Linked DNA regions of Homo sapiens: region 2 is linked to region 1. Evidence: fine-mapped expression QTL. A gene starts in region 1. The other region holds a variant in brackets. All regions are shown on one strand. Distances are between the middles of the regions. Region 1 holds the start of TMEM11 (transmembrane protein 11). Region 2 overlaps DHRS7B (dehydrogenase/reductase 7B).

What was found.
Region 2: its variant is fine-mapped to the expression of TMEM11 in whole blood (INTERVAL, PIP 0.97).

The regions. Positions count from the first base shown.
Region 1 is chr17:21,211,962-21,217,335 of GRCh38, forward strand. It overlaps TMEM11 (transmembrane protein 11), which reads right to left and starts at 2,200. Exons shown (of 2, transcript NM_003876.3): 1 at 2,130-2,200. The coding sequence starts at 2,191. TMEM11-DT (TMEM11 divergent transcript) reads left to right here and starts at 2,364. Exons shown (of 2, transcript NR_184102.1): 1 at 2,364-2,489. RefSeq lists enhancers at 2,102-2,201, 2,972-3,181 and silencers at 2,282-2,421, 2,542-2,811.
Region 2 is chr17:21,127,422-21,132,795 of GRCh38, forward strand. All of the region lies in intron 1 of DHRS7B (dehydrogenase/reductase 7B), which reads left to right. Among named protein-coding and RNA genes, the nearest start is that of DHRS7B, 3.1 kb to the left of the region's middle. The variant CA/C (reference allele first, on the strand shown) is at 2,283.

The sequences.
Region 1 (5,374 bases):
AGCTAATCCGCCCTGCCCCACCTGAACAGTCATCACCAACTGAGCAGGAATGGAGGGATGCCCAGAAGTCAGCTCGCTAGCCCCACAGCGGGTTATGTTTCCATCCCCTGCTCAGCATGGGAAGAGCTTAGGGAAGCTGGGCTCGGGGAAATGACTCTTCCAACAGAACCTGGCTAGGGGTTTACAGCAAGAGCAAACAGACAGGTAGTCTCCACCCATACCACGTTATCTAGGAGAGTAGATGGTGACATCCAAACTACAAAACCAAATGCCACATTCCTGCTGACACACAACATCTGCGTGTGTGAGTAGAGCCTTCAGTTCCAGGCCAAAGGTGCAACCTGAACACCTACAGAGACCAAGCAGGCAAATGCATTGAGTCAAGCTGACAGGTGATTTGAGTCAAGCTGTCAGGTGATTTGAGTCAAGCTGTCAGGTGAGGAACCAAGAACTGGAACCAAGCACTTGTCCCGACCAAAAAGAGTCAGCCACTACCCAGCTTTTCAGGGAGCGTTTTATATGAAATCTGCTGGCAACTAATTTAAATTCTCTTAAAAACTGTTGAGGTTCAACAGTCAAGGACTGGATCCAGCCTATGCACTGCTAATTTGCAGATCCATTTTGAATAAACAGTTGTCTCAAGCCAAAACAAAAACAATTCTCAGCATCTATTTTCTTAGATCAATAAAAGCTTAACCTGTGCTGGCAAGGCTCCTGTTCCCTGCCTGAGGCATCCCTATTCGGCTCTTTTCAGATGCTTTTAGTCCAACAAGAGGGCGTATGTTTCTAATACTTTGTTTTCTAAACAGGTTATTTCGTATTACTGTTTGCATTGAATATCTTGAAAATGTTTGCTAGTTTTTAAGAGCATCTGAAAACCATTGAGGTAACTTATTTAAATGGTCCAATCTAATACCAGGCGGGAGTTAGAAAAACAAAAGTGTGTTTACCACTGCTTTTCCAAGGAAGAGGAAATGCAGAATGGGCAACGCTGGATAACTGGGCTAAAGAATAAAGTGCAAGCAAGCTAAAGGATTCTATCACAACTGCCAAACAGGAAGAATCTTCCCAGCTGGGAAAGCCATCTGCAAGCAATAGCAATGAACACGGGATGGAATCAGTCACAGAAAAGGAATAATGCAGAGTAGTTGAGAGGAAGATAACTTTTCTGTTAGACAATCCTCACCAAAAAGACGGGGAGGGGGAGAACCAGCAAAACAAAAACTTTTCCTTTTTTGCTGACCGCTGCTATAACAATCAAGCTTTAGCGGACAGTTAATCCAGGTGGCTCCACCAATACATCTTCTCCCAAATTTCTAGTGGCTGAACAGCTTCTAGTGGTTTCCACTAGCTGAAACTGCTTCCCAGATGCAAAAACTGCAACTTGAACATGAAACACGGAAACTACTCCAATCTCATCTTCTAGAAATCAGTTATTCAAATGGAGGTCCCTGTTGGAAGAAACACGCTCCTAGCTCCCTGCCCACACACCATTCATTAGGAAAGGTCACTTTAAAGGACTTCTACGGCAGGAGCGCTTGCACAGAACCATCCAAAAGTCTTCAGAATCTTCCCTCGAGGAAGTGGCCGGCTCTGGGCTCGGAAGAGACACATCTGGCGGGAGCTAAAGCTCCCTAGTAAACGTGCAGATCAAACTACCCCTGCCGCGGCCGGCCTGCTCTGTGAAGGCTTCCCCTTCTTTCTCTCTCCGGGGGCCCTGCCTTCCTCTACACGTCTGGGGCCGCGGCCGAGATGGCCACGCGCGTGCCCAGGCGGGAAGGGTGCTTCAGCAGCCGATCGGCCCGCGGGCAGCTAGGCGGGTCCCTGAGGCCTGCGCTGGGCGCCAGTTCCTTTCAGCACGGCCCGGCCTCGGGCCCCGCCCCGCATGGCCGCTGCCTACCTTACTCAGCCCGGCTAACGCCCCTTCCCCTAAGCTCTCCGCCGAGGCCTTCGACCTCGCTCCCACCCGGATCCCGGATCCTCCGGAACTGGAACCCAGTATGCCCGGCGAGGGTAGGGGGAGCGCGGGGAAACCAGGGAAGGAAGGCTGCTGCAGCCCTCGGAGGCCGCGCTGGGCTCTCCGGCCGCTGAGCCGCCTGCACTGGGGGCAACAAGCCCTTGGATCTCACCTCTCTCGGGCGCTGCCGCCACTGCTGCCCGGGCCAAGACGCCTCCTTCCCCAAGCGGCCATCTTGGAGACACTCTGCTTGCCAACGTCTCGCGCCAAGGCGGCATCGGGAGAGCAGGCGGGCCGACGGGAAGTGTAGTCCGGCCTGCGGTCCGGGGCCGCTCGGCAGGCGGAAGCCAGACCCGGCGGAACTACCGTGCCCACAAGGCAGCGCGCCGGAAGCCCCGCCCCCGGGGTCGCCGGGGCCCGTAGTCCTTCTGCGAGGGCGCGAGGACTCCAGGAGCCGTCCTGGTTCGAGCATTTCTGAAGAAACTGAGTTCCCGGCGTTCGCAGCCTGGGAGTCACAGGCGCCCACCCACCGGTAGGTCCTTGAGTTTCGAGAGCCAGTAGCTGAAGGAGAGAGGAGAGGCAAGTGCCTACAACTCCCAGAGCACTGCGCGGAGGCGCCCGGCCGCGCTGTCCTGGCCGCCAGGCTGCCTCTCCCGCTGGGGGCCGCCGCGCTGTCTGCGGGCTACTAGCGCCGGGCCCCTCCGCGTCGCCACGCCTGCCCTTCACAGCCTTGGCCCATAAGGTCACCGAGGGGCGGGAGGCGCCGCCCGGGCCCTCCTTGGAGGCGGGCGCTGCTCCCGCACCATCCTCCCCCAGTTCTCTTAGACTCCGGGGTACTTTGGAGGCCGAGACAGACACGCTGTCCCTGCTGCCACGGAGGTCCCTGCTTGCAGGTGCAGGCTGTTAGAGGAGAGGGTCTGAAAACAAGAAAGGGGAATAGCTGTATGATAACTGCTTGAAGGCGAGAGGGCCCAGCGACAGCTCTGTTTTAGACAGGGCCTCCAGGCCTCTTAGACTCAGTCCCTGCCACGCACCCACTCCTGCCCTGGCCGCTGCGACGGCATAATCTCGGGATCTTTGAAGGCAGATGCGGGGCTAAACCATCCCACCTGACGGGAACCCTGCCACAGGACCCGACATATCCCTGTCTGGACACTGCTGTAACGAGTCAAAGTCAGGAAGGACTAACTGGAGCCCAGAGATTCCCAGGTGCTGCTGCCTCAGACCTGTGGACTCTTTGGAGGATCTCTTACAGTTTGTGAACTTCTCAGTTCCTCTACTGCTCCCACAGACAACGTTGCTAAACATATTAATTGGTCCCATAAATACTTGAGCAAAACAAATGCGAAAATCTGTCCCGAATTCAGCCTAGAAGAAGCCCAGCCCTGCGCGTCACACTTCTGTGTAGTGGAACCCCCCTTCCCACCCCGCCGCAGGCCACAGCAGGAGGGCCAGCAGACGGAAAGGCGACCCTCTCCTTGTTGAGGATTCCTTTCGATTTCCTTCCAGCTGACATTCTACCACAGTTTTAGCTGCTTGCAATCCTCTCACCGTCCCTCATCACCTACAGTGTGTGATTCAAATTCCTTAGCACAATCAAGAAGCCCCTCCTTAGTTTGGAAGTTGCCTAGCTCTCCAAATTCAACTGCCTACCTTTCCCGTCTGGAACTTGCCAGGCTAGTAAATTCAGAGGGTTTGCAGATACGTAGATGTTCTATGCTTTACCTAAAATGCTTTTACCTCCCAGCCAACTTTTTTTTTTTTTTTTGAGACAGAGTCTTGCTCTGTCGCCCAGGCTTGAGTGCAGTGGTGCGATCTTGGCTCACTGCAACCTCCGCCTCCCAGGTTCAAGCAATTCTCCTACCTCAGCCTCCTGAGTACCTGGGATTACAGGTGGTGCCACCACACCCAGCTAATTTTTGTATTTTTAGTAGAGACGGGGTTTCACCATGTTGGTCAGGCTGGTGTCCAACTCCTGACCTCATGATCCATCCCCCTCAGCCTCCCAAAGTGCTGGGATTTACAGGCATGAGCCACGGTGCCCAGCTCTCCCAGCCAACTTTTGTCCTTCAAGACCTTGTACCTGTCTGGTCTCTAAAAAGTACCTGGCCTTCCTGTTGAGTCATACAGCCCTGCCTCCAAGTGTCAGCGTAGTTCATGCTGGAGACCTCTTAACAGTTCCATGGTATGACACTGCGGATATGGCTGTCTTTTCTTTGTATCAGTGTGGTGATTCAGAGGGTATACTAGGGATTCTAGAACGCACTTCTGGCTCAGGGGCTGCTTGTGTAACTTCTGTTTCTCAGCTGCCTGGTTTGTATCATGGGATGATAGTATCTCCCCTCAGAGGATTGCGGTATTTCATGAGGTGATACGTGTATGGAGGCCAAGTGCTGTTTTATATTTTAAGTGATCTACATCTTGATTTTCACAACAACTGTATAAAAGTGATACTGTTGGCCAGGTGCGTTAGCTCACGCCTGTAATCCCAGCACTTTGGGAGGCCAAGGCGGGTGGATCACCTGAGGTCAGGAGTTCAAGACCGGCCTGGCCAGCATGGTGACACCTCGTCTGTACTAAAAATACAAAAATTAGCCGGGCATCGTGGCACACGCCTGTAATCCCAGCTACTCGGGAGGCTGAGGCATGAGAATCATTTGAACCCGGGAGGTGGAGGTTACAGTGAGCTGAGATCGCACGACTGCACTCCAGAATGGATGACAGAGCAAGACTCTGTCTTAATAATAGTATCACTTTTTTTTTTAATCAACAATCTCATTTTGTAAATGAGGAAATCAACTTACAGACGACCTGAGTGACTTGCTCACACTGCCAGCCAGGAAAGTGCTAGGATTTGAGCCCAGACTGTCCAGTTACAGAGATTACACTCTGCCATTGTGCCTCTCCAGAAGCACTGGAGGTAGGTCTAGTGCATAGAGTAAATGTAAATGCTGAAACAACTGTGGCCCTAATGAACATCCCATTTCTCCAGCTTTTTACTCTCCCCTTAACTTCTGAATGACCGTCTGCTTCTAATCTGCCAACTTGGTCTAAGATCCTCACGGTGTTTCCTCCTGATTACTGTTAATGCACGGAGGTTGTCTGGAAGGTTCATAGGCAGCCTGATTGACTCAGTATGTATTAGCTGAGCACCTTTGGAGGGCACAGCCTGAGTGGTGGGAATTAGTTCCTGGGGGCTGTCCTGCGGTGGAGACTCCCGTGAGCCCTCTGTCCTGCTGTATGAAGGCAGCCAGTGGAAAGGCATGTCCTCGCTGGTGCTCAAAGTAATCTGCTACTTCTCTTACTACACTTTTCATTCATTCATTCTTAAATCGTTGAAGGCATACTCTGCAGGTACTCTTGGGCACAGAGATACGGTGTTTAGTAAGACAAACACTGTTCCTGGGTCTTAACGGG
Region 2 (5,374 bases), 85 kb before region 1:
CAGTGACGGCGAGTTAGGACTAGCAAAGGAAGTCCGGTTTTTCAGAAGGCAGGAGGAGGGTGCTGACTCGAGCGTCCACGGGAATGGCTGGTTGAGATATCTTGCTCTTCCAATACTTACTCTGCGGCTTCCTGGCTGTGCGGCTTTGGGCAAATGTTTTAAACTCTGAGTGTTTCTTCAGCTGTAACTTTGGGAGTAACAAGCCCACTCATAAGGTTGTTGTGAAGCGTAAATGAGACTGCGCGTGCAAGGTGCTCAGCTGGTGTCTGGCACATAGTAGGTATTCAACAAATGGTAGCCACATAATGCTCTTTTTTTCAGTTTCCAAACCTTCCATGTAGTGATTGGAGAATCGTGAAGTTACTTTTGAAGTAACGTTTGGGTTTCACACACTCATACATTTAGTAAGCAGAATTCTTGCTTACACTGTTGCCGATTGCAACGGTGTGTTTGCATAATGGAAGCTATGTTTGTGCCTTTGCCAAGGGTGTGGAATATGCCTTCCCTACCATGTACATGTCCCCTTTTCTCCATTCCTTAATAATAGTTGATATTTTTTGAGTGTTTGCTATGTTACAGGCACTGTACTAATCCCTTTACTGAATTATTCAATCCTGTAATAACCCTAATCATAGGAACTATAATTTTTATTTATGGAGGGAGAAATGGGCTTAGAGATGTTAAGAAGTTTATCCAAAGGCATAGAGCTATTAGCCAGGCAAGGTAGCACACGCCTGTAGTCCCAGCTATTTGTTGGGGCTGAGGCAAGTGGATTGCTTGAACCTGGGAGACAGGCTGCAGTGAGCCGAGATCACGCCATTGCATTCAAGTCTGGGTGACAAAGTGAGACCCTGTCTTGGCTGGGCGCAGTGGCTCACACATGTAATCCCAGCACTTTAGGAGGCTGAGGCGGGCGGATCACCTGAGGTCAGGAGTTCGAGACCAGCCTGGCCAACGTGGTGAAACCCCGTCTCTACTAAAAAATACAAAAATTGGCTGGGCGCGGTGGCTCACGCCTGTATTTCCAGCACTTTGGGAGGCCAAGGCGGGCGGATCACGAGGTCAGGACCTCGAGACCATCCTGGCTAACACGGTGAAACCCCGTCTCTACTAAAAAAATTCAAAAAAATTGGCTGGGCTTGGTGGCGGGCGTCTGTAGTCCCAGCTACTAGGGAGGCTGAGGCAGGAGAATGGCGTGCTCCGGATGGCGGAGCTTGCAGTGAGCCGAGATCCCGCCGCTGCACTCCAGCCTGGGCGACATAGTGAGACTCTGTCTCAAAACAAACAAACAAACAAAAATTAGCCGGGCGTGGTGGTGGGCGCCTGTAATCCCAGCTACTCGGGAGGCTTTGGCAGGAGAATCGCTTGAACCTGGGAGGCAGAGGTTGCAGTGAGCCGAGATGCCGCCACTGCATTCCAGCCTGGGCGACAAGAGCGAGGAGACTCCGTCTTAAAAAAAAAAAAAAAAAAAAAGTGACACCCTGTCTCAAACAACAACAACAACAACAACAAACAACAACAAAGGCATAGAGCTAGTAAAGGCCGATCCAATGCCATGTCACTCCAGAACCTAGCGCTTAGCTACAAATTTCATTCATTCCTTCAGATACTTATTGAACGTTTACAGTGTACCAGCATTGTGCTGGGTGTTGTGGATACAATGATGATCAAAACAGATAAAGCCCCTGTCTTTAAATTGCTTATAAATCTAGCAAGGGAGATAGTAAATATATAAATAAAACTAAATATTAATTACGATTGTGATGCATGCTGTGGAGGACAGTAGAGGGTGCTGTGAGGATACATAATGGAGTCACCGGCATGCGGAGGGGGAAATGAGGAGAGACAGGGAAGGCTTTCCCAAGAAAATAATATTTAGCTGAGACTTAAAGGACTGAGTTGGAGTTAAATTGGACAAAGAGCTAACAGGAGGAGGGAAGGGCATGTGTGAGGTCTTGAGACTAGGAGGAGCTTGTATCTTGTTACTTAAAGACCCCTGTGAGGCTGTAGGTGGTGGCTCACACCTATAATCCGAGCGCTTTGGGAGGCTGAGGTGGGAGGATCATGTGAGGCCAGGAGTTTGAGACTAGCCTGGGCAACATAGGGAGACCCCATTTCTACAAAAAATAAAAAATTATCTAGGCGTGCTGGTGTGTACCTGTTGTCCCAGTTACTCAGAAGGCTGAGTCAGGAGGATCACTTGAGCCCAGGAGTTTGCGGCTACAGTAAACTGTGATAATACTACGGCACTCCAGCCTGGGCAGCAGAGTAAGACCCTGACT[CA/C]AAAAAAAAAAAAAAAAAAAGAAAAAGAAAAAAATAAGCATTAAACCAGACTGGAATGTATTATGGATAATATGCTAATGCAGTTTCTTTCAGAAAAGAAATCCCACCACTTATTTGTATGCAGCTGAGCAGATACAACCCATTATGTAGTCTCAAGATTAATGGTAATTTGTCCTCTTATAAGAAGACTTGACAGCACCATTTGCTGTACATGTTTTCATAGTTCATTCTAAATTCACCTGGTAATTGGGTTGGTCATCTGTGCTACCTAGTTACTTTTTTCCAAAGGAAAACATGAAACAGCTCTATGATAAAACAAGTAGTTGAGGTGCCTAGGCTAAACTTCCACAGTGATAGGGATAGGGCTGGGGCATTGTCTTCCTGGATATTTCCATTTAAAATAGGGGGTTTGGCTGAGCACGGTGGCTCACGCCTGTAATCCCAGTACTTTGGGAGGCTGAGGAGGGCAGATCACCTGAGGTCAGGAGTTCGAGACCAGCCTGGCCAACATGGCGAACCCCGTCTCTATTAAAAATACAAAAATGTGTGGTGGCGTGTGCCTGTAATCCCAGCTACTCAGGAGGCTGAGGCAGGAGAATCGCTTGAACTGGGAAGCAGAGGTTGCAATGAGTCGAGATTGTGTCACTGTACTCCAGCCTGGGCTACAGAGTGAGACTCCACCTCAAAAAATAAATAAATAAATAAATAAATAAACTTACGTATGTATGTACGTACGTTTGTAAAGGGGGGGTTCCAGGCCCTTCAGAAAAACAGTCCTGGGTTTTACTGTATTTACTGGGTTTAAACAAGCTAAGCTAGGGGTAGTTTATTTAGCCTTTAAAAAGATTTGCATACATATCAAAGGGACAGAGGAATAATTTATAAATACTGGGTTTTTCAAAGAAATGCTGTGAGGAAAAGGAAGGAGAGAAGATCTCTTTCCCTTTGGAAACAGTGAAAATTCAGTTTTAAAATTTTTACTATATGTTTGCATGACAACTAAAAAAAAAATTTACTTACAGTACAGTAAAATGTTGGACTAGAGCAACATCCATAATGTTGGATGGTGTAGGAATTATTCATTCCCACCCCATTATACACATAAGAAACCTTTCTTTGGTAGCCAATGTTATTTTAATGCAAAAATGAACTCTCTATTCTGGAAGGCCATAAGCATGAGGGTGAAAATTGGGATTGAATGGTGTGTAAATTCAGTTTGAAAGCTTCTTGCCACCCACCCAGATAGGAAATACAACAAATTCCTTAGGATTTTACCTGAGCTCTCCCTCCTATCTTCTAAAGTTCCCAGTAACATGAGGCTTGGCCATTTAAACTGCTTAGTGGAGGGAGAGGTCTGTGATGGCCACTGAATTTGCTACTGGAGAAGAGTCTTGATCCAGACCTCAAGAGAGGGTTCTTGGATCTTGTGTAAGAAATAATTTGAGGCCAATCCATAGAGAAAAGTGAAAGCAAGTTTATTAGAAAAGTAAAGAAACAAGAGAATGGCTACTCCATAGGCAAAGCAGCCCTGAGGGCTGCTGGCTGGCCACTTTTATGGTCATTTCCTGATTATATGCTAAAGAAGGGGTGGATTATTCATGAATTTTCTAGGAAAGGGGTGGGTAATTCCCGGAACTGAGAGTTCCTCCCCTTCGTAGACTATATAGGGTAACTTCTTGACATTGCCATGGCATTTGTAAACTGTTATGGTGCTGGTAGGAGTGTCTTTTAGCGAGCTAATGCCTTATAATTAGCATATAATGAGCAGTGAGGATGACCAGAGGTCACTTTCATTGCCATTTTCCATTTGGTGGGTTTTGGCCGGCTTCTTTACCTCAGCCTGCTTTATCAGCAAGGTCTTTCTGACCTGTATCTTATGTGACCTCCTATCTCATCTTGTGATTTAGAATGCCTAACCTGCGAATGCAGCCCAGTAGGTCTCAGCCTTATTTTACCCAGCCTCTATTCAAAATAGAGTTGCTCTGGTTCAGATGACTGATAAATTGATTGAATATTGCTTACCAGTGGTTTGAGCTTCCTTGCTGTACTTAGCTAGTGTTTTATTAAGTAAGGCTATGTTTGTACTAGGAACACTAATTTCTGAAGGGGATATAAATTTTTCCAGTTTATATGAGCAGCACTTAGTGGTCATTAAATTGGATACTACTACATTAAGAAACTACCATTGCAGAATTCTCTATGAGTATGGCATTATAATCCAGATTGGTTTAAAATGTTAGCTAAACTGAATCAAAGAAACTGTACTGAGTTCCTATTAAGCAGCTAACTTGTTTATGTTCAATTGTTGCTTAGAAGCCTTTGTATTCTGTTTGAGTTGTTAAAACTTCAGACAAACTAAATTCAACAGAGTTTAACTGAACAAAGAATGATTTGCAGATCAGCAGCCTCTGGAACTAGAATAGGTTCAGAGTGACTCTGGGGTAGCTACATGGTTGGATAGTATTTGTGGACAGAAACAGCAAAGTGACATACAGAAAATGGAAGTGAGGTACAGGCCAGGCCCAGTGGCTTACACCTATAATCCCAGCACTTTAGGAGGCCAAGGCAGGAGGATTGCTTGAGCCCAGGAGTTTGAGACCACCCTGGGCAACATAGGGAGACCCCATCTCTTAAAAAAAAAAAAATATATATATATATAGATAGATAGATAGATAGAGATATGCAGGTGTACCACTCATGCCTGTGGTCCTAGCTACTCAGGAGACTGAGGTGGGAGGATCGCTTGAACCTGGGAGGTTGAGGCTGCAGTGAGCTATGATCACACCACTGCACCCCAGCCTAGGTGGCAGAGGGAGACCTTGTCTCAAAAAAAAAAAAAAAAAAACAAAAAAAAAACAGGGAAGTGAGGTGTAGAAAGAGCTAGATTGGTTGCAGCCTAGTGTTTGCCTTATTTGAGCAGTTGGCTGCCTATGACTGGCTGAAACTGGGCTGCTGTGATTGGCTGAGACTGGGCTACTTGTTACAAGAGTAGGTTAAAGTTTGTTTGCACATCCAGTTAGGTTACAGGTCACTAGCTATGGAGGAACATTTAGGCTAAACTTAAAATATGTAAGGAGGCAGCTTTAGGCTA